4 separate regions of the Homo sapiens genome follow, and all the other regions are reported to be linked to region 1. The links are microRNA targets in miRTarBase. Many come from high-throughput screens and were not tested one by one. Region 1 holds a microRNA gene; each other region holds the end of a gene's coding sequence.

Region 1 (3,231 bases):
GCCCATGGTAGCCACTATTCAATTCTCTACATCAGTGAGATCAACGACTTTAGATTCTGCATATGAGTGAGATTATGCAGTATTTGTCTTTCTGTGTTAGGTTTATTTCAGTTAACATAATGTCTTCCAGGTTCATTTATATTGTCACAAATGATATAGGATTTTATTCTTTATGGCTAAATAGTATTCCATTGTGTGTGTGTGTGTGTGTGTGTGTGTGTGTGTGTGTGTGTATGTGTGTCTATGTGTGTTTGTATACCATATATATGCCACATTTTATTTATTCATTTATTTATTCATTTTATTTATCCATTTATTTATTCATTTTATTTATCCATAAATGTTAATGAACATTTAGGTTGATTCCATAACTTGACTATTGTGAATAGTGTTGCAACAAACATGAGAGTGAGACATCTCCTTGACATACTGATTTCATTTCCTTTGGATATATATCCAGCAGTGGGATTGCTGGATCATAAGGTAGTCCCAGTTTTAATTTTTTGAGAAATCTCCATATTGTTTTTCATAATGGCTAAACTAATTTACATTCTCACCAACAGTATTTAAGGGTACCCTTTTCTCCACATCCTTCCCAACACTTGTTATCTTTTGTATTTTTGATAGAAGTCATTCTAACTGGAGTAAGGTAATACCTCATTGTGTTTTGATTTGCATTTCCATGATGATTAGTGATGTTAAATATTTTTTTCATATACCTCTTTGTCATTTGAATGTCTTTTTTTGAGAAATGTCTAGTCAGGTCTTTCGCCTATTTTTAAACCAGATTATTTGTGTTTTTGTGATTGAGTTGTTTGAGTTCTCTTTTCTCTCCAACTTCATACCTCATCCCTGGGCAACCATTAATCTAGTTTCTGTCTCTATAGATTTCTGTATTCTGGACATTCATATAAATGGAATCATAAAAGATGTGGTCTTTTGTGTTTGGTTTCTTTCACTTAGTATAATATTTTTCAAGGTTCAACAATGTTGTAGCATGTATTCGTACTTTATTCCTTTTTATTGCCAGTGTTTGCTAGTATTTTATTGAGAAATTTTGTGTCTACATTTATAAGAGATACTGCTCTCTAGTTTTCTTTTCTTGTGCTGTTTTTACCTGGTTTTGGCATAAGGATAATGCTAGCTCCTAGAATGGGTTTGGAAATATTCCTTTGTCTTCTCTTTTTTGAAAGAGTTTGTAAAGAATTATTACTAATTCTTCTTTAAATGTTTAATCGAATTCACCAGCAAAGCCATCTGGAATTGGGCTTTAAGTTGTGGGAAATGTTTTCGTTTGAAATTAAATCATTTTACTTGTAATAAGTTTATTCAGATTTTCTATTTCACTTTGAATCAATGGTGGTTGTTTCTGGTTGTCTTTCTAGAAATTTGTCATGTCATCTAAGCTACCTAATTTGTTGGCACACAAATGTTCACAGCATTCCTATATGATCCTTTTTTATTTCTGTAAGGTTGGTAGTGATGTCTCCACTCCCATTTTTGATTTTATCAACTTATACCTTCTTTCCTTTCTTCTTCAGTCTAGCTAAAATTTTGTCAATTTTAATTTTTTTCTTAAAGAACCAATTAGAATTGATTGATTTTTTGTTTTTCTATTTCCTATTTTATTTATTTCTGTTCTAATATTTACTATTTTCTTCCTTCTGATTGTTTTGCATTTAGTTTGCTCTTCTTTTTATAGTTTTTTAAGTTGTCAGGTTAGATTATTGACTTGAGATGTTATTATATAGACATTTGTAGTTATAAATTTCTCTGTAAGTACTGTGTAAGCTACATTCTATAATTTTTCGTATGTTTTATCTTCATTTTCATTTCTCTCATAGCATTTTCTAATCTTTCTGGCATTTTTCAGACCATTGATTACTCAAGAGTGTGTTGCTTAATTTCCACATAATTGTGAATTTCTAAATTTCCTTCTGTTACTGATTTCTCATTTCATTCCACTGTGGTTGGAGACCATACTTTGTATAATTTTTTAAAAATTTATTCAGACTTGTTTTATGCCCTAGCATATAATCTATCCTGGGGAATGTTCCATATGTACTTGAAAAGAGTATATATTCTGCTGTTTTTTTCTATCACGCCTAGTTGGTGTCTATCACATCTATTTGGTGTATACTGTTGTTCAAAGAAATAGAGGACTTGAGCAACGCTATACACCAGATAGACCTGACAGACATTTACACAATGTTCCATACCAAAGCAGCAGAAATACTTGACTAGTTGTTCAGAATTTATTTTTAATTTTAATAAATATATTTCAATGCATCCATCTCACTTACTCATTTCTCATAAAAGTAATATGAGTAACACCCCTCTACGACCATGGAAAAAGTGGCTATTTTTGATTCCTCTGATTCAATAGATCACTGTAGAACATGAAGTCACCAAATATTCTTGTGTAAGAGCTCTCTGAAAATTAATCTTGACAGGATTGTTGGGGGATTACTGGCACAGGTGTAGACTGCCAGGCTGTCTCTCCTGCTTTGCACATAGCCTTTTTTGAGTATAAATAGAAGAAGAACATTACTGCTTTCTGCTATTTCAGGAAAGAACACACCCATTTATTTAGTCATTCATAAGCACTGAGTTGAATGCCTACTGTAAGACAAGCCCTAAGAGTACTTATAGTAAACATACACTTGATTCTACTATGACATAAAATCCAGAATCTGATGGCCAATCCTACTGACAGCAGCTAAGAGTAAGAACTTGACATGCTCAGCAGGTACATAAGATATACTTTCCAGATCAATGCTGGATTATGAATGCTTTCTGTCCACAGGATTCTCTACATGCTCCTTTCCTTACCTCCATCAATTTCTGATGTGGGCAAGAAGGATTGTTGTACCCAATAACTGAGTCTACAAACTCAACTCTCTTCATTATGTCTAGGGCAATGCCCAGTGTCCTAAGACCACCAGTTGCAACCTCCTACAATAACCCCATTACATTGGCTAATTTTGTTGATATATCTGAATACATACATATCTGACTATAAAACATGACTCTGAAACTTACTAGATATTGGACATTGACTTGTTCGCCTAACTTCTCCAAGCTTTCTCAGTCTTTTAATTTGGAGACCAGGCATGAAAAATATTTATTTCACAGAATTGTAGTGAGGGTTAAATATTTAAGATAAGGTACCTGACACATAGTGGGCACTCTCCAAGAGTGGTAGCTTAAAACATGCAAATAACAATTCTT
Region 2 (3,231 bases), not on the chromosome of region 1:
AACCCTGTCTCTACTAAAAACACAAAACTTAGCTGGGCGTGCTGGTGTGCGCCTGTAATCCCAGCTACCCTGGAGGCTGAGGCAGAAGAATCACTTGAGCCTGGGAGGCGGAGGTTGTAGTGAGCTGAGATAGAGCCATTGCACTCCAGCAGGGCGACAGAGCGAGACTCTGTCTCAAAAACTACTATCACAACAAAAACCAGTTTGACTCCATTTTCTAGGACATAAGGACATGCATAAAAAATAGTTTACTAATTTAGGGTTGGTGAGTGTGGTTAGAATTTTTAAAAAATTTTTCTATTTGGTTGTTTGAGCCCTACCCACTGTAGTAGCAGGAAACCCAGCCTTTCACTACTGTGGTCCCTGGTATCCTTCCCTTCTTCCTCCCTCCTCCCTTCTTTTTCCTTTCTCTCCTTCCATGGATTGACCAAGAGCCTTGAGCTTGCCTGGGTTCAAGTCCCACATTCTAGCTGTGTGTGACCCTAAGCTCGTTTTTGGGCTCCTCATCTGTAAAATAGGACCTCTCTTTTAGGACTGTTGTCCTAGAAGATTAATGAAATGATACATGTAAGAACTTAAGACAGTGCCTGCAACACAGCTATCTCTGGAAGTTGTTGTTATTATTATTACATAATGTTTTCACAGTTGATAATGGTTTGGCTCTCTGTCCCCACCCAAATCTCACCTCTAATTGTAATCCCCACATGTTGAGGGAGGGATCTGTAATTCCCATGTGCTGAGGGAGGGATCTGTAATTCCCATGTGCTGAGGGAGGGATCTGTAATTCCCGTGTGCTGAGGGAGGGATCTGTAATTCCCGTGTGCTGAGGGAGGGATCTGTAATTCCCGTGTGCTGCGGGAGGGATCTGTAATTCCCGTGTGCTGAGGGAGGGATCTGTAATTCCCGTGTGTTGAGGGAGGGATCTGTAATTCCCGTGTGTTGAGGGAGGGATCTGTAATTCCCGTGTGTTGAGGGAGGGATCTGTAATTCCCGTGTGTTGAGGGAGGGTGGAGATTGGATCATGGGGGCGATTCCCCCATGCTGTTCTCATGATAGTGAGTTCTCATGACCGCTGACAGTTTTAAAGTGTGGCACTTCCTCGTTTTTGCATGCCCTCTCTCTCCTGTCGCCTTGTGAAGAAGGTCCCTGCTTCCCCTTCCGCCACGACTGTAAGCTTCCTGAGGCCTCCCCAGCCATGCGGAACTGTGAGAGTCAATTAAACCTCTTTCCTTTATAAATTACCCAGTCTTGGGGATTTCTTTGTAGCAGTGTGAGAACAGACTAATACAATTGTTATCAGTTGAATTGTCTCCCCAAAATTCATATACTGAAGTCCTGACCCCTAGAACCTCAGAATGCAACTGTATTTGGAGATAGGGCCTTTAAAAAGGTAATTAAGTTAACATGAGGTCATTTGAGTAGACCCTAATCCAGTGTGACTGGTGTCTTCATATGAAGAAGAGATTAGGACACAGACATGCACAGAGGGACGACCATGTGAGGACGCAGGGAGAATGGCCTTATACAAGTCAAAGAGCCTCAGAAGGCTCTGCCCATGCCCTGGTCTCTGATTTCTATCCTTCAGAACTGTGAGGATATGTGCCTCTGTTGGTTAAGCCCGTCCCCCAACCCCGCTCTGTGGTACCTTGCTAGGGAACCCTTGCTGACAAACACAATATTATCACAGAGTAAAGAAGCGGCCAAACTGCATTTCAAACTGGTAGGATTTCCCCTCCTGCACACTCAATATGGTGGTTTCCAAATGATTTGAGGTCAGGAGTTCGAGACCAGCCTGGCCAACATAGTGAAACCCCATCTCCACTAAAAATACAAAAATTAGCTGGACGTGGTGGCAGGCACCTGTAATCTCAGCTACTCGGGAGGCTGAGGCAGGAGAATCGCTTGAACCCGGGAGGCAGAGGTTGCAGGGAGCCGAGATCGCACCATTGCACTCCAGCCTGGGCGACAAGAGTGAAACTCCATCTAGAAAAAACCCCAGAAAACATAAAAGAATTGAGAAGAATGAAATCCACACAATGAGATAAGTTTCATCGCGAGTTTTACTGAATGCATGTTTTACTTAGACATACCAGATATTACAAATAATATCATAAATGACAGTGTGTTTCAGTTGTAAACTCTAGAGTCTCATCATCGGGAGCACACAGCAGACAATGGTCAGGGAAACATCTCTATCCAGGTCCTCTGGGGATCTTCGTCTCCCTTTAGAACCTGGTGGCTTGTCACTCCGTGGTCCTCTCCTGGGCCCCACACCAGTGCACAAATGCCACACAGATTCCTGCAGGTACACGTGGAACTTGGGCTCATGATCAAAGAGAATTCTCAGCCTGTCTGCTGGTGTTCAAAGTTCAGACTTCAGATTACCAAGTTTTCATCAACTGTTATTTCCAGAACTTCAGCTATTTCTCTTTTTTCTTGCAAGAAGAGATTTCACAATCTACACAAATTTAGAGATGTGACTCTTAGATTCTGCAAAATTCTTAACTGCTGTCAGTTCTGGAAATCCTTGTGGCCTCAACAGAATTCTGGAGCTTTCTTACTTCATGCCCACGTACCTACATGTGGATTACGAAGACTTCTGTTATCTCAGGATGATTTACCTTTTCCCTAGAACATCAATAGCACAGTTTAAAACACTGTCTCAGCCTGGCATGGTGGCTCATGCCTGTAATCCCAGCACTTTGAGAGGCCAAGGTGGGTGGATCGCTTGAGCCCAGGAGTTTGAGACCAGCCTGGGCAGCATGGCAAAACCCCTTCTCTACCAAAAATATAAAAATTAGCCAGTCTTATAACCTGGTCTCAAAATAAGTAAATAGATAAAAATTTTAAAAAGTATTAAAAAAAATCGCTATCTCTACCAGCTCCCACCAGTTCCTAACAAAATCAATTTCACTTACTTCATCTTCCTATTTATTAATGCTCAACCTATTTGCTTAGAACTTTAGCATTTTCCATGCAACTTTTCATTTATGTCAAAGATTTAAAGTGATACAGGCAACAATAATTTTAGAGAAATCTCATTGCTTTATTACTACTAACAGTATTTAAAATTTTTAGGCTGAAGTTTAAAAATCCTTACTATTGATGGATTACTTTTTAAGTTAGGAGTTCCTTTATAGATACTGTGGTTTGAGGCACCAATTTCATGGAACTTTATGTGCTGAGTGGTTGTACGGGCTCACGTAGGACCGAAGCCATAGCTTCCTGTAG
Region 3 (3,231 bases), not on the chromosome of region 1:
TAGTAGGAGTAGAAAAGCAATAAACAAGTGGTCATGTAGGTAAATAAGCAAACACATACATAAACAAAAAATAATTTTGGAGGCCGGGCGTGGTGGCTCACGCCTGTAAATCCCAGCACTTTGGGAGGCCGAGGCGGGCTGATCACCTGAAGTCAGGAATTTGACACCAGCCTGTCCAACATGGTGAAACTATGTCTCTACCAAAAAAAAAAAAAAATACAAAAATTAGCCAGGCGTAGTGATGGGCACCTGTGGTCCTAGCTATTCAGGATGCTGAGGCAAGAGGATTGCTTGAACCTGGGAGGCAGAGGTTACAGTGAGCCGAGATTGCGCCTGGGTGACAGAGCGAGACTCCGTCTCAAAAAAAGAAAAAAAAAAAAAAAAAGAAACAGAGTCAGAAAAGCAGGCACACCCAATGAGAGATCCAGAAAGGACGCTAAAGAGTGGGCTCAGAAGAGATGGGGCCCCTGGAGAGACACACATGGGGTTCCCCACTCTCAGGCCTCCCTCCATGACCCCTTCTCTTCCCCCAGGCCCAGGATCCCTGGAGAACTCAGCCCCGAGGCCCCCAGGGCTCCTGGCCCTCCTCTCCGCCCTGGGCTGGCTGTGGTGGAGAATGTAGGCGCAACCCAGTGGAGCTCACCTCCCCCTGCAGGGGGCCTCAGGCCAAGAGTGAGAGAAACGGGGGAGCAAGAGCCGTGGGTCTCGTGGGGGCAGAAGAGCTCTCGGCCACCAAGGAAGAAGAGAGAGGAGAAGAGGAGGAGGCAGAGGAAGAAAGATCTTCAGAGAACCCATCACTGTGAGGGATAACGCAAAATTATGCATCTTTCTACAGCCATTCTCGCCACCCGTTCACGTTTCCGATTGTGACCCACTCCCGCCACCCCATACCCCTCTCTCTTAGCTCAGGCTGTCAACTGGCTTGTGTGGGTGTGGGTGTGTGAGTGTGAGCCTGCATGCATGTGTAGGTGTCTGTGTCTCTGTTTGTGTGTGTGTGGGGGGGTGGGCTGGGGGAAGGGACTCAGCCGTCCTCCCGCCCCCAAAACCCCCATGTCCACTGTCCCCAACCCTATTGCCTCTCACCTCTGGCTGGAGGTAGGTATGAGGCTCTGCAGTGGAAGCTGTGAAGAGAGGCTTACCAGGCTCCCTGCTTCCCCAATATATGCACGCACACTACCCCTCCCCCTGTCGAAAGGGCAACTCCTGGCAGGTTGGGAGTGGGGAGGGGCATCGCACTCACCTGTCAAGCTGTCATTCAGCCTTTGTGAGTAAGTGGGGGACCTCCATCTAGGCTCTGGGCTTCCCTGCTGTCAACCACCAGCTTCCTGTAGCCAGAGGCCCCATCGCTGGCTCAGTGGCCTGAGACCTTCCCACTTTTCCTGTCCCTCCACACCCTGGATTTTCTGGCCCCCTCCTGGGCCAATCGGTGCTTCCATCCAACTGTCAGACTGGTGGCAGGAGTCACCTGTCTGTTTCAGTGCTTTGCCCTACCCTTGCCACCACTCCCCTTGGCCTTGATTTCCCCACCTGCGGCACCAGCCAGCTGCCCTTGGGGCCTTTGCAGCTGGCCCACAGGTGTGAGCTTGCTGGTCTATCACTTCCTGGCCTCTCCACCAACTGTACCTCCCAAAGGCTACCTGACCGCCCTCACAGACACTCAGACGCACCACACACACATACACACACACAGACACACACACACACACACACACACACACCAGCGACTGTGACCAGCAATAGCCCCCTGGCTCCAGCTGTCCGGTAGCTGGTGACTAGCTGTATTTCCCCCTGGGTAGGCATCTGGTGTCAGGAAGGGACGCTGAGAGGCCGCAGCCTCAGCTCTGACTGTAGGAACACTCCACCCTGGTACACCACACCACACAAAGTGGGGGACAGAGAGGCATCACACAGACATCCTGAGCCCAGACAAAGATGCCATGTCACCAACTCCGACTCCCAGGAGACCCTCTATATAAACACCCACCCCAAACCACACCACCCAGAGTCTGGTGGAGAAAAGGAGAGGGCAAGGCGCAGTGACTGTACCTCAGACGGGGGCATGGGCCCCATCCCACATTGTCTTCCATTCCCAGGGTCCAGGGGATGGGGTGGGACAGGGGAGGGATGCTAGGGAGGGGGTGGGGGGCCCTGGGGGCCATGTGTTCCAATTCATGGGGAGTGTTGAGACCACCACACCAATAAACGCCTTTTTCCAAAGTCTGCCTGCAGGTGTCAATGTCATTAAGGATTAGAGTTAATGAAGGGCAAAGGGTAGCAGTCAATTGGTGGTGCCTCTCCAGCATCATTCCTACCGCCTACTTTCTCACTGGTAGACTTGGAATGGACTCATTACAGAGATGCCCTGTGATTGGCCGAAGACACCCAGCATAGCCCATTTCCCACCGTGATTGGCTCAGAGATGGGCACATGACCCAGTAAGGCTAATGAGAAAGTGAATGGATTCCCAAGAAGAGATGCTTTTCTGCTGGATATTGTGGCTCCGTGATGTGAAGTCAACATCTGTAGGGTTGCTTTTCTCCATCACATGGAGAGATCTTGGCTCTGTGGGGATAGCAATGGTGGGGAGGACAGCATATGGAGCCTGAGAAGGATAGGAACACTGTGAAGGGCAGAGTGGAAACCTTAGAGAAACTGAGTCCATGATTATATATCATTTGAGCAGCTGGATCAAAACTTAACTGATGCCCATTTTCACTTATATAAGCAATAAAGTCCCCTGTATATTTAAACCAATTTGCATTGGATTTTCTATCTCTAGTAATAAAAAAGAGAATGAAAACCATAATAGATACAGAAGAGACATAGAAGGCCCAGAACCCCAACCCTCACCTTTCCAAAAGGATCCAGGGGTTCTATTTTCCAATGGCCTTTTCTACCCCCAATCATTAACCAGAAATTCTCTCACATGCTTTCCTTCCCTGAGACAGATGCTGGTTGCCCACATTTGAGTTGTTTGGTTCCCCTTTCTTCTTCGCTGGCAGATCCACGTGTTATGATACAGGCTAGATATCTGGTTTCCTAGCCTCCTTTGCAGCTATGTGGCCAGTTTGGGCCAAAGAGACATAAATGGAAATTTGCTTGTAGGTTTCCAGGAAAGCTTCCCTCCCACCCCATGAGAGGGAAGAAGGCAGTGATAGAGGGAGGTAGAGGGTGGGGAAGATGTATAGGGAGGAAGTTCTGCCCCCTTCCTTTTATCTTTGGATACAGTTG
Region 4 (3,000 bases), not on the chromosome of region 1:
GGAGAAAGGCCTTACAAGTGCAGCGACTGTGGGAAATTTTTTACCCAATGCTCAAGCCTCATGCAACATCAAAAAGTTCACACTGGAGAAAAGCCTTTTAAGTGCAATGAATGTGGGAGATTCTTTAGAGAGAATTCCACCCTAGTTAGACATCAGAGGGTTCACACTGGAGCAAAGCCTTATGAGTGCAGGGAATGTGGGAAATTTTTTAGCCAAAGCTCAACCCTCATGCAACATCGAAAAGTTCACATTGGAGAAAAGCCTTTTAAGTGCAATGAATGTGGGAGATTGTTTAGAGAGAATTCCAGCCTTGTTAAACATCAGAGGGTTCACACTGGAGCAAAGCCTTATGAGTGCAGGGAATGTGGGAAGTTTTTTCGCCACAACTCCAGTCTTTTTAAACATCGAAGGATTCACACTGGAGAAATGCAGTGATTGTGTGAAATCCTTTAGCCAGCGTTTCAACCTCATTCAACACCAGAAAGTTCACAGTGGAAAAAATCTTGAAGGTAACAGATGGAAATCCGTTAGCCACACCTCCAGTCTCATTCAACACTGGACAGTTTACAATGTGGACAATGTAGTGAATATGGAAAAAGGTTTCAGCCAAAGGCCTAACCCTATTCAACACCAGAAAGTTTACACTGGAGAAAGGCCTTAGGGTGACAGGTTATGTACTGTCTCTGAATCAATATGACCTCACTTAAAACAGAAACTCTGAGGATGGCCTTTATGAGGGAGCTGGCAATTGAACATCATTCATCTAAATATGCACACTGGAGGCAAGATGAGAATTCCTGACAGATTGTCCTTCCTGAGAAGACAGCCCTCTGCCTTGGAGCTCCAGAGAGAGGGAGCCCTGTATTCTTGGCTGTACCCGTCGAATGGAGTTTTGATCTCGCTGAGTTTGGAGTTGGGGGAGGAAAGGAGTGGTCTTGGTTCAAATGTGACTCACTTTTGCTGTTCTTGTGAATGTTAGATCTTCTTTAATAAATATTTATTTCCCATACACCCTTATGACCATTTCCAGAGACTGAATTGTGTTTTTATAATTTTCACCCTTTTGGCTGTGTAACAGGTCTGCAAAGCTCCTCATTCAGTTATTCTGTAAGTTGATCCAAATGTTTCAAATTTTAAGAACTTGCCAAATTGTGTTCTAAATGGTTAGCATTTCATATTTCCTCCTGGAATATATTAGATTTTCCATTTCTTCACATTACTGACAGTTTATATGTGTAGAAGTCATAGGCCATTCATTTTAGCCATGTTACTAAGTGTGAAGTAGTATTTCATTGTAGTTCTTAATTTGTATTTTTCCGATGACTCAGTTTTGAGCATTTTTTAATGTGTTTACTTGTCACCCATATATCTTCTTTAGTCAAATGTATTTTTTGCCTGTTTTTTAAAACATTTGGTTGGTTACAAGTTCTTAATATTTCTGGAGACAAATTCCTTATTTGATATAAGCATTGTCAATATTTTCTCATGGTCCATGGCTTTTGTTTTCTTTTCTTTTTTAAAATTTAGAGATGAGGTCGTGCTATGTTGCACAGACTAGTCTCTAACTCCTGGCCTCAAGTGATCATCCTGCCTCAGCCTCCCAAAGTGCTGGGATTACAGGCATGAGCCACCATGCTTGGCCTTGTTTTCAGTTCTTAACAGTATCTTTCCTAGAGCAGATTGTCTTAATTTTATGGAGCCCAATTTATCCATTTGTTATTTTATTCATTGTGCATTTGGTGTTGCATCCTCTTACTATACCATATCTTTGCCTATAAATAAAAGCCTTGACTGAGTGCGGTGGCTCACGCCTGTAATCCCAACACTTTGGGAGGCCAAGGCGGGTGGATCACGAGGTCAGGAGATTGAGACCATCCTGGCTAACACAGTGAAACTCCCTCTCAACTAAAAATACAAAAAATTAGCTGGGCGTGGTGGCGGCTGCCTGTAGTTCCAGCTATCCTGGAGGCTGAGGCAGGAGAATGGTGTGAGCCCGGGAGGCGGAGCTTGCAGTGAGCCGAGATTGCGCCACTGCACTCCAGCCTGGGGCACAAAGCCAGACTCTGTCTCAAAAAAAAAAAAAAAAAAAAAAAAAAAAAAAAAAAAAAAAAAAAGCCTTATGTGAGTATGCTACTGTAATCTTATGAATCTTTTTAAATATCCAACTTCTGAAATATTTGTAGGTTTAACTACAAATAAATAATTCAATATATAGATAAATGTGTACATATTCCCTATCTTTACTGAGAGCCTAGCAAGCCATGGCATTCCAGTAGTTTTGAGCACATTTAATACCCAGTTATTGGTTTATATCATTTTTTAATAAAAGGAACCAGAACTCCTTAGAGAAGAGGCTGTTTTCAAGTTGTGGCAGAAAAGGTACAACATGATTTGAGGAAATACTGCATTGGAAAATAAATAAATGTTCACAGAATAATGTTGACATATTAGCTTTTTATTGCTATCCTGACAAATCACCACAAACTTATGGTTTAAACAACACAAATATAACAGAAGTCTCACTGGGTTAAAATCAAAGTGTTGGCATGATTATGTTCCTTTCTAGAGTCTCAGGGAGGATCTGTTTCTTGCTTATTTCAGTTGTTAGCATATTTAAGTTCTTCGTGGTTGTAGGACTGAGATTCCTTTTTCTTGATGGCATCAGCTGAGGGTCATTCCTAGGATATATAAGAACTTTTATGAAAAAGGAAGAAGTAATACCAATTGTATACAAACTTCCAAGAGGACAAAGGTTCAAAGAATTCTGGACTATATGAAAGTTAGCATTAACAGGACACTAAAGCAGGCAATGACATTAAACAAAACTATAGACCAATAATCACATGAATATAGACACAGAGCCTTAAGAAAATTTTAGCAAATTGAGGCACTCGTCCTTCAAATCACCCCCTTGGGTCTCTTCCAAGCATACTTGCCTTTCTTTCCTGTTCTAAAGCCTTTTTAAATAAACTTGCACTCATGCTAAAACAAAACAAAAAG

What was found. The annotated mature microRNA hsa-miR-7978 reads UCUGGUGUAUAGCGUUGCUCA and lies in region 1 at 2,165-2,185, opposite strand. An mRNA with a match to its seed (bases 2 to 7 or 8) in the 3' UTR can be bound and repressed. Matches are read on the target gene's strand: a 7mer-m8 pairs with bases 2 to 8, a 7mer-A1 pairs with bases 2 to 7 and ends in A, and an 8mer does both.
Region 2: miRTarBase lists C7orf33 as a target of hsa-miR-7978. Seed matches in the 3' UTR shown: 7mer-m8 at 2,356-2,362.
Region 3: the mRNA of IGLON5 is a reported target of hsa-miR-7978. Seed matches in the 3' UTR shown: 7mer-m8 at 1,715-1,721.
Region 4: miRTarBase lists ZNF419 as a target of hsa-miR-7978. Seed matches in the 3' UTR shown: 8mer at 475-482 and 8mer at 628-635.

The regions. Positions count from the first base shown.
Region 1 is chr4:21,462,574-21,465,804 of GRCh38, forward strand. MIR7978 (microRNA 7978) reads right to left here and starts at 2,185; the gene lies at 2,127-2,185. All of the region lies in intron 1 of KCNIP4 (potassium voltage-gated channel interacting protein 4), which reads right to left.
Region 2 is chr7:148,614,672-148,617,902 of GRCh38, reverse strand. It overlaps C7orf33 (chromosome 7 open reading frame 33), which reads right to left. Exons shown (of 3, transcript NM_145304.4): 3 at 2,043-2,576. The coding sequence ends at 2,502. Among named protein-coding and RNA genes, the nearest start is that of C7orf33, 26 kb to the right of the region's middle.
Region 3 is chr19:51,328,138-51,331,368 of GRCh38, forward strand. It overlaps IGLON5 (IgLON family member 5), which reads left to right. Exons shown (of 8, transcript NM_001101372.3): 8 at 534-2,754. The coding sequence ends at 622. Among named protein-coding and RNA genes, the nearest start is that of VSIG10L-AS1, 10 kb to the right of the region's middle. RefSeq lists an enhancer at 121-1,043.
Region 4 is chr19:57,493,656-57,496,655 of GRCh38, forward strand. It overlaps ZNF419 (zinc finger protein 419), which reads left to right. Exons shown (of 5, transcript NM_024691.4): 5 at 1-2,443. The coding sequence ends at 435. Among named protein-coding and RNA genes, the nearest start is that of ZNF773, 4.8 kb to the right of the region's middle.